Linked DNA regions of Homo sapiens. The protein of the gene in region 2 interacts with the protein of the main gene of each other region in a pairwise test. Each region holds a gene or a part of one and is shown on either strand. Other genes may lie near its edges.

Evidence for each region. Proteins that work in one complex are often made in the same cells at the same time.
Region 1: the proteins of MAGEB3 (region 2) and PPP1R7 interact in binary tests that used the Homo sapiens proteins (3 or more experiments, as listed by UniProt).

What each region holds. Positions count from the first base shown.
Region 1 is NC_000002.12:241,160,464-241,167,485, reverse strand, and holds part of PPP1R7 (protein phosphatase 1 regulatory subunit 7), read right to left. Parts: coding exon 6,992-7,022; intron 4,202-6,991; coding exon 4,085-4,201; intron 1,150-4,084; coding exon 1,045-1,149; intron 442-1,044; coding exon of another isoform or gene 418-441; exon of another isoform or gene 312-417; intron 1-311. UniProt on the Homo sapiens protein: Regulatory subunit of protein phosphatase 1.
Region 2 is NC_000023.11:30,226,022-30,233,673, forward strand, and holds the start of MAGEB3 (melanoma-associated antigen B3), read left to right. Parts: upstream 1-4,635; 5' UTR 4,636-4,796; intron 4,797-5,495; 5' UTR 5,496-5,597; intron 5,598-6,045; exon of another isoform or gene 6,046-6,121; intron 6,122-6,805; 5' UTR 6,806-6,895; intron 6,896-7,240; 5' UTR 7,241-7,342; intron 7,343-7,652.

The sequences.
Region 1 (7,022 bases), on a different chromosome or scaffold from region 2:
GTCCTCAGCGCCATTCCACTGCAGGCACGTCTCGACTTACCACTCTAAACTACACAGGTGAACACTTGGTTTGCATGCTAGTTTTATAAACTTTTAATTTCAATGCAAAGTCAAAGGAAGGTGACCAAACTTTCCACAGGCAAATTTGAATTTTTCCAAAATTTTATGCAGGTGTTGGTGAAATTTACTGCTGCCAACTAGGCCCTGGGGTTGAGGCACAAAGGCCTTTAATGAGATTGAAACACTATGTTTATAGACCAATCTGGTTGTATTTGCTGGCAATTTAACAAAACAGAAAAAAACAAGTAAAATTGAATGAGAAAAAGTCTTTTATTTGTCTTGAACACCGCACTGGGGCAGAGCAGGGTGAGCTGGAGGCAGCTGAGGAGGGTGGGGGCTCTGTGAGCACACTTCCCCTCAGTACGTGAGGCTGTCCTGCACCTGAGTGAGAAGGGCCGGGGAGGGAGGGAGGAGCATGAACAGGTGAGGACAGGTGTGGAAAGCAGGCAGGGAGGAATGGGGGAGGAGGAAGCTGCTCATACTGTAAGAAGAGGAAGGGGCTGGGACTGAGAGCTGGTCCTGTGCTCTCTGTGGGCTGGGAAGTAGGGGCTGAGGCCAGTGGACCCATGGACAGGTCAGTGGCCTAAAGGGATGCCAGTCACCCTCATACAGGGCCCTTTACGAGCAGGTTGGGTTTGTTTTTTTCAAATCTTGCAAAATGCCTGCAGTGCACAGTGGGTGTGCAATGGATGCTGCCCCATTGAGGAAGCCTAGGGAAGCCTGTGCTGAAATCCCACATAAAGCGTCAGCCCTTCAAGGCACACTCAGGGCAGAGGGCCAACAGGCACACACAGCTCCTGCACTTTTCAGTATGAGGAAAGGGTCCCTTAGTTTTTAGGATGGGAAGGTCTTTCTGATAAACCTCCAGAGGCAGGGCATCTTCCTGACACCGGCCCGAGAGGCCAGTGTGTGCTGGCTGGCCAGGTGCCTGCCCGCCTGGTGCCCACCGCCCACACAGCCCCAGACAGACAGTGGGTGTCTTACATTGTTCTCCAGGCCCTCGATGACCTCGATGCCATTGTGGCTAAGGTACAGCTCCCGCAGGTTCACCAGGTTCTGCAGACCCTCGATCTTGGTCAGCCGGTTGCTCTGCAAGAGGGAGAGCACACAGCTGTCAGAACAGTACAGAAGGTATGAAATGAAACGGTTTTTAGGAAACGAGGTTTTGTGTTATCTTGAAGAATTCTAAGAACAGAGAATTTCACTTAAAACATGCTAGAATGGGGCCGGGCGCGGTGGCTCATGCCTGTAATCCCAGCACTTTGGGAGGCCGAGTGGGGCAGATCACGAGGTCAGGAGATCGAGACCATCCTGGCTAACGTGGTGAAACTCCATCTCTACTAAAAATACAAAAAATTAGCCAGGTGTGATGATGGGCGCCTGTAGTCCCAGCTACTCGGGAGGCTGAGGCAGGAGAACGGCGTGAACCCGGGAGGCGGAGATTGCAGTGAGCCAAGATCATGCCACTGCACTCCAGCCTGGGCAACAGAGCGAGACTCCATCTCAAAAAAAAATATATATATATAAAGGGCTGGGCACGGTGGCTCACGCCTGTAATCCCAGCACTTTGGGAGGCCGAGGCGAGAGGATCATGAGGTTATGAGATCGAGACCATCCTGGCTAACACGGTGAAACCCCGTCTCTACGAAAAAAATACAAAAAAAATTAGCCGGGCGTGGTGGCGGGTGCCTGTAGTCCCAGCTACTTGGGAGGCTGAGGCAGGAGAATGGCGTAAACCTGGGAGGTGGAGCTTGCAGTGAGCCGAGATTGCACCATTGCACTCCAGCCTGGGTGACAGAGCGAGACTCCGTCTCAAAACGAACAAACAAACAAACAAAAAACATGCTAGAATGGGACTCATGTAGAGAGAAAAAGAGGATCAAAATTTTGAGCCTGCTGTACTGAGCTAAAATTCATGCATGGGAATTACATGTTTTTTATATAAAGAATTCATTGTTAGGCCAGGTGCAGTGGCTCTCACCTATAATCCCAGCACTTTGGGAGGCCAAGGCAGGAGGATCACCTGAGGTCAGGAGTTTGAGACCAGCCTGGCCAACATGGTGAAACCTGTCTCCACTAAAAATACAAAAAATTAGCCGGGCGTGGTGGTGCACACCTGTAATCTCAGCTCCTTGGGAGACTGAGGCAGGAGAATCGCTTGAACCCAGAAGCTGAGGTTGCAGTGAGCCGAGATTGCACCCCTGTGCTCCAGCCTGGGCAATAAGAGCGAAATTCCATCTCAAAAAAAAACCAAAAAAAAGAACTCATTGTTAAAAGATACATTTGGTGAAGGTTTACCTGATTTAATAATTTTAAAGTGTAAAAATTACTGAATATTTTAAAGTAAATTAATTATAATTTCTTTCTTTCTTTTTTTTGAGATGGACTCTCGCTCTGTCACCCAGGCTGGAGTGCAGTGGCACAACCTTGGCTCACTGCAATGTCCTCCTCCTGGATTCAAGCATTTCTCCTGCCTCATCCTCTTGAGTAGCTGGGATTACAGGCGCCCGCCACCATGCCTGGCTAATTTTTGTATTTTCAGTAGAGATGAGATTTCACCATGTTGGCCAGGCTGGTCTCAAACTCCTGACCTCAAATGAACCGCCTGCCTTGGCCTCCCAAAGGGCTGGGATTACAGGCGTGAGCCACCACGCCTGGCCTAAGAGCTTTTTTTTATATTTTTAATTTTTTTAGAGATGGGCTCTCACTATGTTGCCCAGGCTGGTCTTGAACTCCTGGGCTCAAGCGATCTGACCGCCTAGATCTCCCGAAGTGCTGAGGTTACAGGCATGAGCCACTGTACCAGGCCAAGAACTTTCTTAAAGAAGCCTGACAAACTTCTGCTTCACCAAGGGTTAAGAGCGGTTTCCACATGCCCCTCAGTATCAGTCGAAGGGATCAGGGATCAACTAACCATACCGGGCCTCGTCCCCAGAGCACTCTGTTCCATCTCGCTTCAAGGGTCCAATTCTGCTAATTTGCTTCCAACACAAAAGGTAAACAGGAGCCTAGGCACACCCAAGTGCTTACCAACTCCCAAATGCAGAAGTCTAACAGGGTTGATATTCTCTGTGCAATGGAAGGAATTGCTTTTACCATTGAGCCAAACACTTTAGAATTTAGAATAAGCTCCACCTTCTGAAGAAGTCCCCTTTGGCTAAAAACCATCTATGACTGCTACTGGGGCAGAAGGGGGAGGTGGGTGGGTGGAAAAAGCCAAAAACATGGCACTTAAGAAAGAAATTTTTTGGGAGGCCAAGGCAGGAGGTTTGCTTGAGTCCAGGAGTTCAAGACCACCCTGGGCAACATAGGGAAACCCCTTCTCTACATAAAATACAAAAATTAGCCAGGCATGGTGCTGTGTACCTGCAGTCCCAGCTACTTGGGAGGCTGAGGAGGGAAGATTGCTTGAGCCTAGGAGTGTGAGGCTATAGTGAGCTATGAATGCACTTGTCACTGCACTCCTGCCTGGATGACAGAGTGAGACCTTGTCTCTTAAAAAAAAAAGAAAGGCCACGAGTGGTGACTCATGCTTGTAAACCCAGCATTTTGGGTGGCCAAGGCAGGAAGATCACTTGAGGTCAAGAGTTCAAGACCAGCCTAGGCAACATAGTGAGACCTCATCTCTTCCATTCCTCACCCCCTTGACAAAATATTAGCTGAAGGTCGTGGTGCATGCCTGTAGTCCTACCGACTTGGTAGGCTGAGGTGGGAAGCTGGCTTGAGCCCAGGAGTTGGAGGCTGCAGTGAGCTATGACAGCACCACTGCACTGCAGCCTGAGTGACAGATAAAGACCCTGTTTCTAAAAAAGTGAAAAAAATAAATAAAAAATAAAAAAGAGAATCAAGTTTTTGCTTGGCACATGTGTGTATAAAGTCTATGGCATCTAATGTTTCAATTGCTTACTAATAGTGCAACGAAGTGCCAATTGTGAAGGCAGTGAAGGATAAAAACTAAGATTGTGTCCAGCAGCGCTGGCCCTGCCAGGGCTCGCAGGGAAGGGCGGCTCAGGAAGCTCCGTACCTGCATACTGAGGACTGTCAGGTTGGTGAGCGCATCCAGGTTCTGAAGTTTAGTAATTTTGTTTTTCCCCAAAAACAAACTCTCCAGGTTGGTTAAGGTGTCGATATTTTCGATTGCCTGTGGAAAGGACAGAACAGCAATGAGTACTGCAGTTGACAGGCTGCCCCAGGCAGCCAGCAGGTGCCTGGACCGGGGCAGAGCTATGTGGGCTTCAGCTCTGCGATGTGGGGCTAGTGACGTATCTGCTAAGACTTCCAGTGGAAATCCTACTTGAAGGTAGAATACAATAGTGGCGAGTCCAAGACTGTCTTGAGCTCATTCCCAACCCTCAGATTTCCTGGGGTGCTGAGGAACAGTCTCAGAACCCAAGGACCAGTAGATTCCCAAGTCCCTTCCAGTTCTAAATTTGTGAGCTGACACATTAAAATGTCCCCCTGTCGGGCGTGGAAATCCCAGCACTTTGAGAAGCTGAGGCAGGTGGATCACAAGGTCAGATAGAGACCATCCTGGCTAACACGGTGAAACCCTGTCTTTATTAAAAATACAAAAAAATTAGCTGGGCGTGGCGGCGGGTGCCTGTAGTTCCAGCTACTCCGGAGGCTGAGGCAGGAGAATGGCGTGAACCCAGGAGGCAGAGCTTGCAGTGAGCCGAGATTGTGCCACTGCACTCTAGCCTGGGCAACAGCACGAGACTCCGTCTCAAAAAAAAAAAAAAAAAGTCCTCCCAAGAGCCTCAGTCTCTACAGAAGAGAGGTACGGGGCACTCTGACCTCAAGTCTTTGAAATCCTGGGACCCTCACTTAGGATTCCTGGGGGGCCCTCACACCACAGCACTCTGCCCCTCTTGCCCAGTTTCCACACCCTCCTACATCACTCTTGCTGTGATCGTGTGCTCCTCTATTCAACCATAAACCTCCAGAGGCAGTGACCACGCTGCCCTGTCTGGTCTCCCCATGGTGACTTGCCTACAGCAGGATGTTTAATGACTGTTTATTGATTTGACTTCAGTTTCCCTCCTCTGTCAGTTCACTCTCTCTCAGAACAAGTCATTCTTTAAATATTTCAGCAGACACAAAATAACCAGATAAGGTGCATGCTAACCAGGTGGGGACTCTAGGAGGGGAGATGGTGTGCTAATCCACACACCACTGCAGGACTTGGCGGGGGCAGGGGCATCCTCACATGCTGTAGCCTGCATTAATTTGTGATGAGCCACTGTTGCCCTAGAAAGTTCCATAGTGAGACACTTGGTAAAATGCGGACATCTGGGCTGCTCTCTAGTTTTAAATGTGCTGCTTTGCTATTTGTGGCCATGACATCTCTAACAATAACTGTCAAGAGACTGTTGCCAAAACCACCCTCCCTTGGTTTGTATCCTGTCCAAGCTCTCAAGGGCCCAGGACAGACAGAGAATGCTGTAATACTTCCAGAAGCCAAGTAGAGGGGCATTCTGAACATGGGCAGGGGCGGATGTGCTTAGACACAGCTGCCAAAGCCACTAAGCCAGGCCGGGGGAGCAAAGGCTCCGTGCCATGACCCTGATTAGGAGCCAGGCACGGGGCTCAAGTGTTCTTCTGGCTGAGAGAAGTCCTCCTTCCTGCCCACGGGAACCCTCCCTCCTCCCTGCCTGGCAGATCCACCTCCAATGTCAGTCCTCCTGGGACGCCCTCCCAAGTTCCCCTCCAGCACATGACGGTGGTTATGAGTCAGCTGGTGAAGACTTGATCCTGCTTCTGTGGAACACCAGATCACTTTTCAAAATTCTTTTATTTCCATTCTGTCCCACGTTTTCAAGGTCAAATGGATCCTGGAGAACAGATCTAATCCTGCTGGGGACGGTGTCCAGGAGTATAAAGCTGTCCAGGGAGGAAGGCCCAACTCAGCACTGCCTTTGGGAGTGTGTCAGCATCAAGAGGTTTTCTAAAGCCCCCGGTATGTACATCAGTTCACTCCAAGTGACCACTTTGCTGGGCTTGGGAAACTTTCATCTCGAAGAAGCATGCCAGAGAAGATGACCATGATCAAGAGGCTTTCTAAAGCCCCGGTATGTACATCAGTTCACTCCAAGTGACCACTTTGCTGGGCTTGGGAAACTTTCATCTCGAAGAAGCATGCCAGAGAAGATGACCATGATCAAGAGGCTTTCTAAAGCCCCGGTATGTACATCAGTTCACTCCAAGTGACCACTTTGCTGGGCTTGGGAAACTTTCATCTCGAAGAAGTATGCCAGAGAAGATGACCATGATCAAGAGGCTTTCTAAAGCCCCGGTATGTACATCAATTCACTCCAAGTGACCACTTTGCTGGGCTTGGGAAACTTTCATCTCGAAGAAGCATGCCAGAGAAGATGACCATGATCAAGAGGCTTTCTAAAGCCCCGGTATGTACATCAATTCACTCCAAGTGACCACTTTGCTGGGCTTGGGAAACTTTCATCTCGAAGAAGTATGCCAGAGAAGATGACCATGATCAAGAGGCTTTCTAAAGCCCCGGTATGTACATCAGTTCACTCCAAGTGACCACTTTGCTGGGCTTGGGAAACTTTCATCTCGAAGAAGCATGCCAGAGAAGATGACCATGAGGAAGTTCAAGAGCAAGGCATTCAGGTTGGTTGGTTCATCTCAGGCAGAATGTAACTGGGAACAGTGTGATTCAGGGTCATGATCTGGATGAAGAGCAACTGAAATCTACGTGCGGAAGAAAGGCTAGACCACTCAGGACTTACTGATACTGACTTTCAGTTAGCATTTTTTCTTAAAAAAATAGTAATTTCCTTGTTCATGAAAAAAATCACAGCATTGTAAGAAATGCAGACTCACCATGCATTCTACATACACCCACTGAGTCCACACACAGCCCGCTAGCTGCCTCTCCCTGAATATACTAGTCAGGGCTGTCTGCACCTACCCGGATGCGGTTAGATCCCAGCTCTAGCATC
Region 2 (7,652 bases):
CTGGTCTTGAACTCCTGACCTCAAGTGATCCACCCGCCTCAGCCTCCCAAAGTGCTGGGATTACAGGTGGTACTTTTATTATTATTTTAGAGTGCACTCCTTCTACTAAAAAAAAAAATGTTAACTGTAAAAACAGTCTCAGGCAGGTCCTTCAGGTTGTATTCCAGAAGAAGGTGGTGTTATCATAAGAGATGACAGCTCCATGCGTATTATTGTCCCTGAAGACCTTCCAGTGGGACAAGATGTGGAGGTAGAAGACAGTGATATTGATGATCCTGACCTTGTGTAGGCCTAGGCTAATGTGGGTGCTTTTGTCTTCATTTTTAACAAAAACGTTTAAAAATTTAAAAAGTAAAAATAGAAAAAAGCTTATAAAATAAGAATATAAAGAAAGAAAATATTTTTGTACAGCTGTACAATGTGCTTATGTTTTAAGCTAAGTGTTACTACAAAAGAGTCAAAAAGCTAAAAAAAATTAAGAAGTTTATAAAGCAAAAAAAGTTACAGTAAGCTAAGGTTAATTTATTGTTAAAGAAAGAAAACTATGCTTGAGAATTTAGTGTAGTCTAACTGTACAATGTTTATTAAGTCTATAATAGTGTACAGTAATGTCCCAGGCCCTCACATTCACTCACTATTCAATCACTGGCTCACCCAAAGCAACTTCCAGTTCTGCAAGCTACATTAATGGTAAATACTCCACACAGGTGTATGATTTTTAACAATCTTTTGTACCATATTTTTTACTGTACCTTTTCTGTGTTTAGGTACACAAATACTTAGCACCGTGTTACATTTGCCTATAGTTTTCAGTGCAGTCACATGCTGCACAGGTTTGTGGCCTAGGAGCAATAGGCTACACCAAATAGCCTACGTGTGTAGTAGGCTATATACCACCTAGGTTTATGTAAGTATACTCTATTATATTTGCACAACAATGAAATTGCCTAACAACGCGTTTCTCAGAAAGTATCTTCATTGTTAAGCAATGCATTACAGTACATGGTGAAATGCTTACTACAGGTAAGCAATTTAATATATCCATTATATCATATAGTTACCTTGTTTTGTGGTAAGAGCAGCTAAAATCTACTCTTAGAAAATTTGCAGTATGCAATACAATATTACTAACTGTAGTCCTCATACTGTACTTTAGATCTCTAGATTTATTCGTCTTATAAAACTGCAACTTTGTACTGTTTGACATGCATCTCTGCATCCCCTCCCCACCCTGCCTCTGGTAACTACTGTTTTATTCTCTTTTTCTATGTATTTAACATTTTTTTCTTTTTCGATTTTACATATAAGGGATATTAATAGCATGCAGCATTTTTCTTTCTGTGTCTGGTTTATTTCATTCAGCATAACGTCCCCCAAGTTCATCTGTGTTGTTGCAATGGCAGAATCTCTTTCTTTTTCAAGGCTAAATAACATTTTTTTAAATTTTATCTTAGTTTCAGGGGTACATGTGCAGGTTGTTATATAGGCAATTGCATGTCATGGGGGTCTGGCGTACAGATTATTTCATCACCCAGGTAATAAGCATAGTACACAATAGGCAGTTTTTCCATCCTCACCCTACTCCCACCTTCCGCCCTTAAGTAGGCCCCAGTGTCTGTTGTTCCCTTCTTTGTGTCCATGTGTACTCAATGTTTAACTCCCACAAAGAACATGCAGTATTTGGTTTTCTGTTTCATTGTACATATATACCACAATTCCTTTATCCATTCATCCATTGGTAAACAATTTTGTTGTTGCCGCATCTTGGTCATTGAGAATAATACTGCAGTGAACATGGGGGCACAAATATCTACAGGAGGTGATGATTTCGTTTCCTTATGCCCAGACAAGGGATTGCTGGGTCATATGGTAGTCCATTTTCAATTTTTTGAGAAAGCTCATACTGTATTCTAGAATGGCTGTACCAATTTGCATTTCCACCAATAGTGTAGAAGCGTTCCATTTTCTCTACACTCTTGCCAACATTCATCTCCAGTGGGTTTTTGTTTGGTTGTTTTTGTTTTATTTTTTTATAATAGCCTTCCTAACTTGTGTGAGGTGATATCTCGCTGTGGTTTTGATTTGCATTTCCCTGATGGTTAGTGATGTTGAGCACATCTTTGTATAGCTATTGGACATTTTTATGTCTTCTTTGAGAAATGTCATACAAGTAGTGAATTTTCTTGAGTACTGATTATGTTGGAAATGTGATTGAATACTGTATTAAAAATTGTTGAGATCAAAAAATTTTTTTAAAAAAGTTTGTCTATTCTTGGTTTGCCTAATTCCTTTTAGTCTTTCTTCTTATAAAATTAAGAGTTACATATCTGGATTTGCTTAGATTATTAAAGAATGTAGGAGAGATTAAATCCTAATTTATTGGACTTCATACTCACTCTCTTGTTTATTCCTTAATCATTAATTGAGCATCAGCTCTTTGGAAGTCTTCATGTTAGTACTGGGAATGTTTTCCCCAAAACAAATCAATTTCTTGCCCATTTAATTTTAGAGTCTGGGAGCAGCTGTCATAAAAAAAAAAAAGATGATGAGGTGCTCTCTAAAACTTAAAGAACAAGTACAAAGGAGGAATGAGAAAAAGAGGAGGTTTGAGATGAGAGCAATCAAGTGTAAATGCCCTGAGGCAAGGCAGTTTGGAGTGTTAGGAAACCTCAAGTCCCCCATTGGGAGGTAATTTTAAGGGAAACTACATGGTGGGCTGGATGAGACTGTGGGAGGGGCCAGGCCCTCAGATGGTGCCTCTCAGAGGTGTGAGACAAAGCCTGGAATGGGAAGTAGTTCTTAACAGTTATTTTGTGCTCACGGATAAACCAGAGAGAATCTGCACCTGGGGCAGGAATGGAATGTGCCCTGTGCTCTTGTCCCAGTGCAGCAGAACATAGTCACAGTGCACAAACTAGGTGCTTTATACAGTTGGTGCATTTCAGTGTTGAGAGACTAAGCCCGGAATGGGAAACTATCCCTAACATTTACTTTCCTGTTGTGGGAAAACCAGAGAGAACCCCTACCTAGGACAAAAGTGAAAAGTGTTCTATGTCCCTATCCTAGCACAGTCTAATACAGTGCACAACCTAGGTGTTCTATGTACATCATCTCTAGTGAGTTTCTGAGAAATAAGGGAGATGACAGCTTCAGGGGAGGTAAGATGCCCAGAAGCCACCGTGCTGGCACTCTTTGTCCTGGGTTGGAGAATCAAGAGCCCGCTCTATTAAAAGGACTTTCAACAGGGGTGCAGCCAGGCATGGTGGTTCATGCCTGTAATCCCAGCACTTTGGGAGGCGAGGCAGGTGGATCTCTTGAGATCAGGAGTTCAAGATTAGTCTGGCCAACGTGGTGAAACCCCGTCTCTACCAAAAATACAAAAATTAGTTGGGCGTGGTGGTGGACATCTGTAATCCCAGCTACTAGGGAGGCTGAGGCACGAGAATCACTTGAGCCCTGAGGCACAGGTTGCAATGAGCCGAGATAGTGCCTCTGCACTCCAGCCTGGGTGACAGAGTGAGACTCCATCTCAAAAAAAAAAAATAAATAAATAATAAAAATCAAAACAGGAGTGGTTAACATAGAAGGGTGCCTAGGAGTTAGAAAAAAATATTGGTCATTGACAAAAATTTTGAGACTTGAGTTGTATCCAATTGGAGAAGGCTCTTCCACAAACACTTTATAAATTATATAATTTTCCTTGCTAAGCAGCATTTTGTTTGATTATAATTTCTTTGTTTGGAGTTTGGTAATATGCTCAAGTTCACAGGGTGAGTAAGTGACAGGGCTGGGACTAGACTCCTGTTGTGAATTCTTCTAGAGCCCACACTCTTCATTCTGTTCCTCTCTGCCTGGAGCAGACTTTGTGTTCTTTAATTCACTTTTCTTCTCAATACTTCCAAATATATCTCAGGGGTTAAAAAGAAGGATTCTGTGCCCAAAGAATTGGATTGGAATACATAGCCAAAGCAATAAAGAATATCAAAATAAATGAAAGCTACAAATAAAGAGGAGAAAGAGATATTATTCAGTGACAATATGATCATCTACATATGCACAGTCAGATAACCTCAAAATCAGGGACCACACAATCATCTTGAACAGCTCCTTCCCCTTAAGAAGTAAATCAATTAAAACAGAAGTCACATAAGAGGCTAGTGCTGGCTATTGAAAAGAGTAAATCAGCATCATTTTTCTCTGACAACCCACCAGCTACCTTGGACTCCCTGCTTTGTGTTATAATTTCTTTACCTCACATTAGCCCTGGGGCACAGACTTGCAAGGTTTGCAGTAGGAACGCTGCCCAAGAGTTTGCAGGGATGTGGCATTTCCCAGGAAGCCTTTATTCAGAGAGGCAAGAGAAAATAAGGAGGACACCCATAAATAAATACTGGAAAGACAACCACACCAAAAGATAACGGGGCAATCTACCCAAACCTCTTCTCAGCCTAGAATGCCCCAGGCAGTGCAGTCAGACTGAGCATCCTCTCTTTTACCCTTCAGAGTTCTCAGTGAAGTGAGAGTTTTGACCTAAGGTGACCTCAGTTAACTAGAGGGAGGATCCAGGGTCTGGCAGATATCAGGGAGGACCTTGAATGAAGAACAGGAGGAGCCAGAACAGTGATGTCCCATAGAAACCCGACTCCGCTGTCTGCCCTCACAGGACCCAAACATCCCTGGCCTAATGTGGCTCATCAAAACTTCAGCCTAGATCTCGGAGGACCTTGATCTGAGCAGGATTCATGGCATGGAATGTGGAGTCCCAGGACTGGCCAGCAGCGAAGTGAGGTTCTTGAGTGAGTAAAAAAGGGAAAACTAAACCCACAAATAAGGGGACTTCTCGGAGCCCAATCCATATTTTTAACCCTGGAAAGCCCTAGGCAGAGCTATAAAACTGGCTTGCCTCTCATTTCAGCCTGGCGGATCTCAGGGAGGGGAAGGCTTTGTCTAACAGGGCAGCCTCAGTTCTTCAGAGGTCTCTTGGCCCTAACTAGAGTCAAGATGAAGACCAAGCCGGTGCGGCATCTCAGGCCTGTAATCCCAGCACACTGGGAGGCCGAGGCGAGTGAACTGTTTGGGCCCCCCCAGGAGTTCGAAACCAGCCGGGACAACATGGCGAAAACCTGTCTCTACAAAAAAAAAAAAAATGGCGGGGCAGCAGTGGAGCACCCCTGTAGTCCCAGCTACCCAGGAGGCTGAGGTGGGAGGATCGCTTAAGCCCTAGGGGTCAAGGCTGCAGTGAGCCAAGGTCACGCCACTGCGCTCCAGCCTGGGTGACAGAGAGAAACACTGTCTCAAATTAGCCGGGCGTGGTGCGGCGCACGTGTAGTCCCAGCTATTCGGGAGGCGGAGGCAGGAGAATCGCTTGAACCCGGGAGGCAGAGGTTGCAGTGAGCCAAGATAGCGCCACTGCACTCCCGCCTGGGTGACAGAGCGAGACTCCATCTCAAAATAAATAAATAAATAAATATAAACTTTTTTTTTTTAATTTTAAGGCAGGGCTCTGGCTCACGCTTGTAATCCCAACATTTTGGGAGGACGAAGCCAGCCTCATCGCTTAAGCACAGGAGTTCGAGGACTGGGAGGTGGAGGTTGTGGTAAGTCAAGATTGCGCGGCTACACTCCAGCCTGGAAGACAGAGAGAGCCCCTGTCACAAAAAAAAAAAAAAAAAAAAAAAAAAGAAAGAAAGAAAGAAAGAAATATGAGGCCCACCGGTGCTAACCAGGGAACCTCTCTCCAAAAGAAGGGCCCACCAAAAGCCCTAACCCTGTTTCAGGTCTTTGAAGCCCCAGGACATGGTCCGATAACATGCCTAGACTTCCCCTCTAGGGACTATGGGAGGGGAGGATTTTGGAGGTTGGCGGACTTCGCTCAGTAGAGGTGTTACTCTGCTCCGCTTAGTATCAAGGTGAGAACCCTGAATAAGGACCTAGGGACCACTGACTCCAGAACAGTGGGGTCCCAGCGTGTCACCCGCTGCTGTCAGCCCTCGGAGACCCCGAGCGGGGTGTGGCTCAGCCTCACTTCCGCTTTGAAAGTGAGGCAGTTGGCCTGACGGGTGCAATAGCTTCAGTCAGGTTCGTGGCCTAGCGTGAGTCTTAGAACTGATCCGGAGTAAAGGTAAGAACCCTCAGCGGGGACTGAAGGGACAATCCATGTTTTTAACCCTGGAAAGCCCTAGGCGGAACTATAAAACTGGCTTGCCTCTCATTTCAGCCTGGCGGGTCTCAGGGAGGGGAAGGCTTTCTCTAACAGGGCAGCCTCAGTTCTTCAGAGGTCTCTTGGCCCTAACTAGAGTCAAGATGAAGACCAAGCCGGTACGGCGTCTCAGGCCTGTAATCCCAGCACACTGGGAGGCCGAGGCGAGTGAACTGTTTGGGCCCCCCCAGGAGTTCGAAACCAGCCGGGACAACATGGCGAAAACCTGTCTCTACAAAAAAAAAAAAAAATGGCGGGGCAGCAGTGGAGCACCCCTGTAGTCCCAGCTACCCAGGAGGCTGAGGTGGGAGGATCGCTTAAGCCCTAGGGGTCAAGGCTGCAGTGAGCCAAGGTCACGCCACTGCGCTCCAGCCTGGGTGACAGAGAGAAACACTGTCTCAAATTAGCCGGGCGTGGTGCGGCGCACGTGTAGTCCCAGCTATTCGGGAGGCGGAGGCAGGAGAATCGCTTGAACCCGGGAGGCAGAGGTTGCAGTGAGCCAAGATTGCGCCACTGCACTCCCGCCTGGGTGACAGAGAGAGACTCCATCTCAAAATAAGTAAATAAATAAATAAATATAAACTTTTTTTTATTTTTTATTTTAAGGCAGGGCTGTGGCTCACGCTTGTAATCCCAACATTTTGGGCGGAGGAAGCCAGCCTCATCGCTTAAGCACAGGAGTTCGCGGACTGGGAGGTGAGCTGCCCCTGTAGTCCCAGCTACCCAGGAGGCTGAGGTGGGAGGATCGCTTAAGCCCTAGGAGTCAAGGCTGCAGTGAGCCAAGGTCACGCCACTGCGCTCCAGCCTGGGCGACAGAGAGAGACACTGTCTCAAATTAGCCGGGCGTGGTGGGGCACAGGTGTAGTCCCAGCTATTCGGGAGGTGGAGGCAGGAGAATCCCTTGAACCCGGGAGGCAGAGGTTGCAGTGAGCCAAGATCGCGCCACTGCACTCCCGCCTGGGTGACAGAGCGAGACTCCATCTCAAAATAAATAAATAAATAAATAAATAGATATAAACTTTTTTTTTTTTTAATTTTAAGGCAGGGCTCTGGCTCACGCTTGTAATCCCAACATTTTGGGAGGACGAAGCCAGCCTCATCGCTTAAGCACAGGAGTTCGAGGACTGGGAGGTGGAGGTTGTGGTAAGTCAAGATTGCGCGGCTACACTCCAGCCTGGAAGACAGAGAGAGCCCCTGTCACAAAAAAAAAAAAAAAAAAGAAAGAAAGAAAGAAAGAAATATGAGGCCCACCGGTGCTAACCAGGGAACCTCTCTCCAAAAGAAGGGCCCACCAAAAGCCCTAACCCTGTTTCAGGTCTTTGAAGCCCCAGGACATGGTCCGATAACATGCCTAGACTTCCCCTCTAGGGACTATGGGAGGGGAGGATTTTGGAGGTTGGCGGACTTCGCTCAGTAGAGGTGTTACTCTGCTCCGCTTAGTAACAAGGTGAGA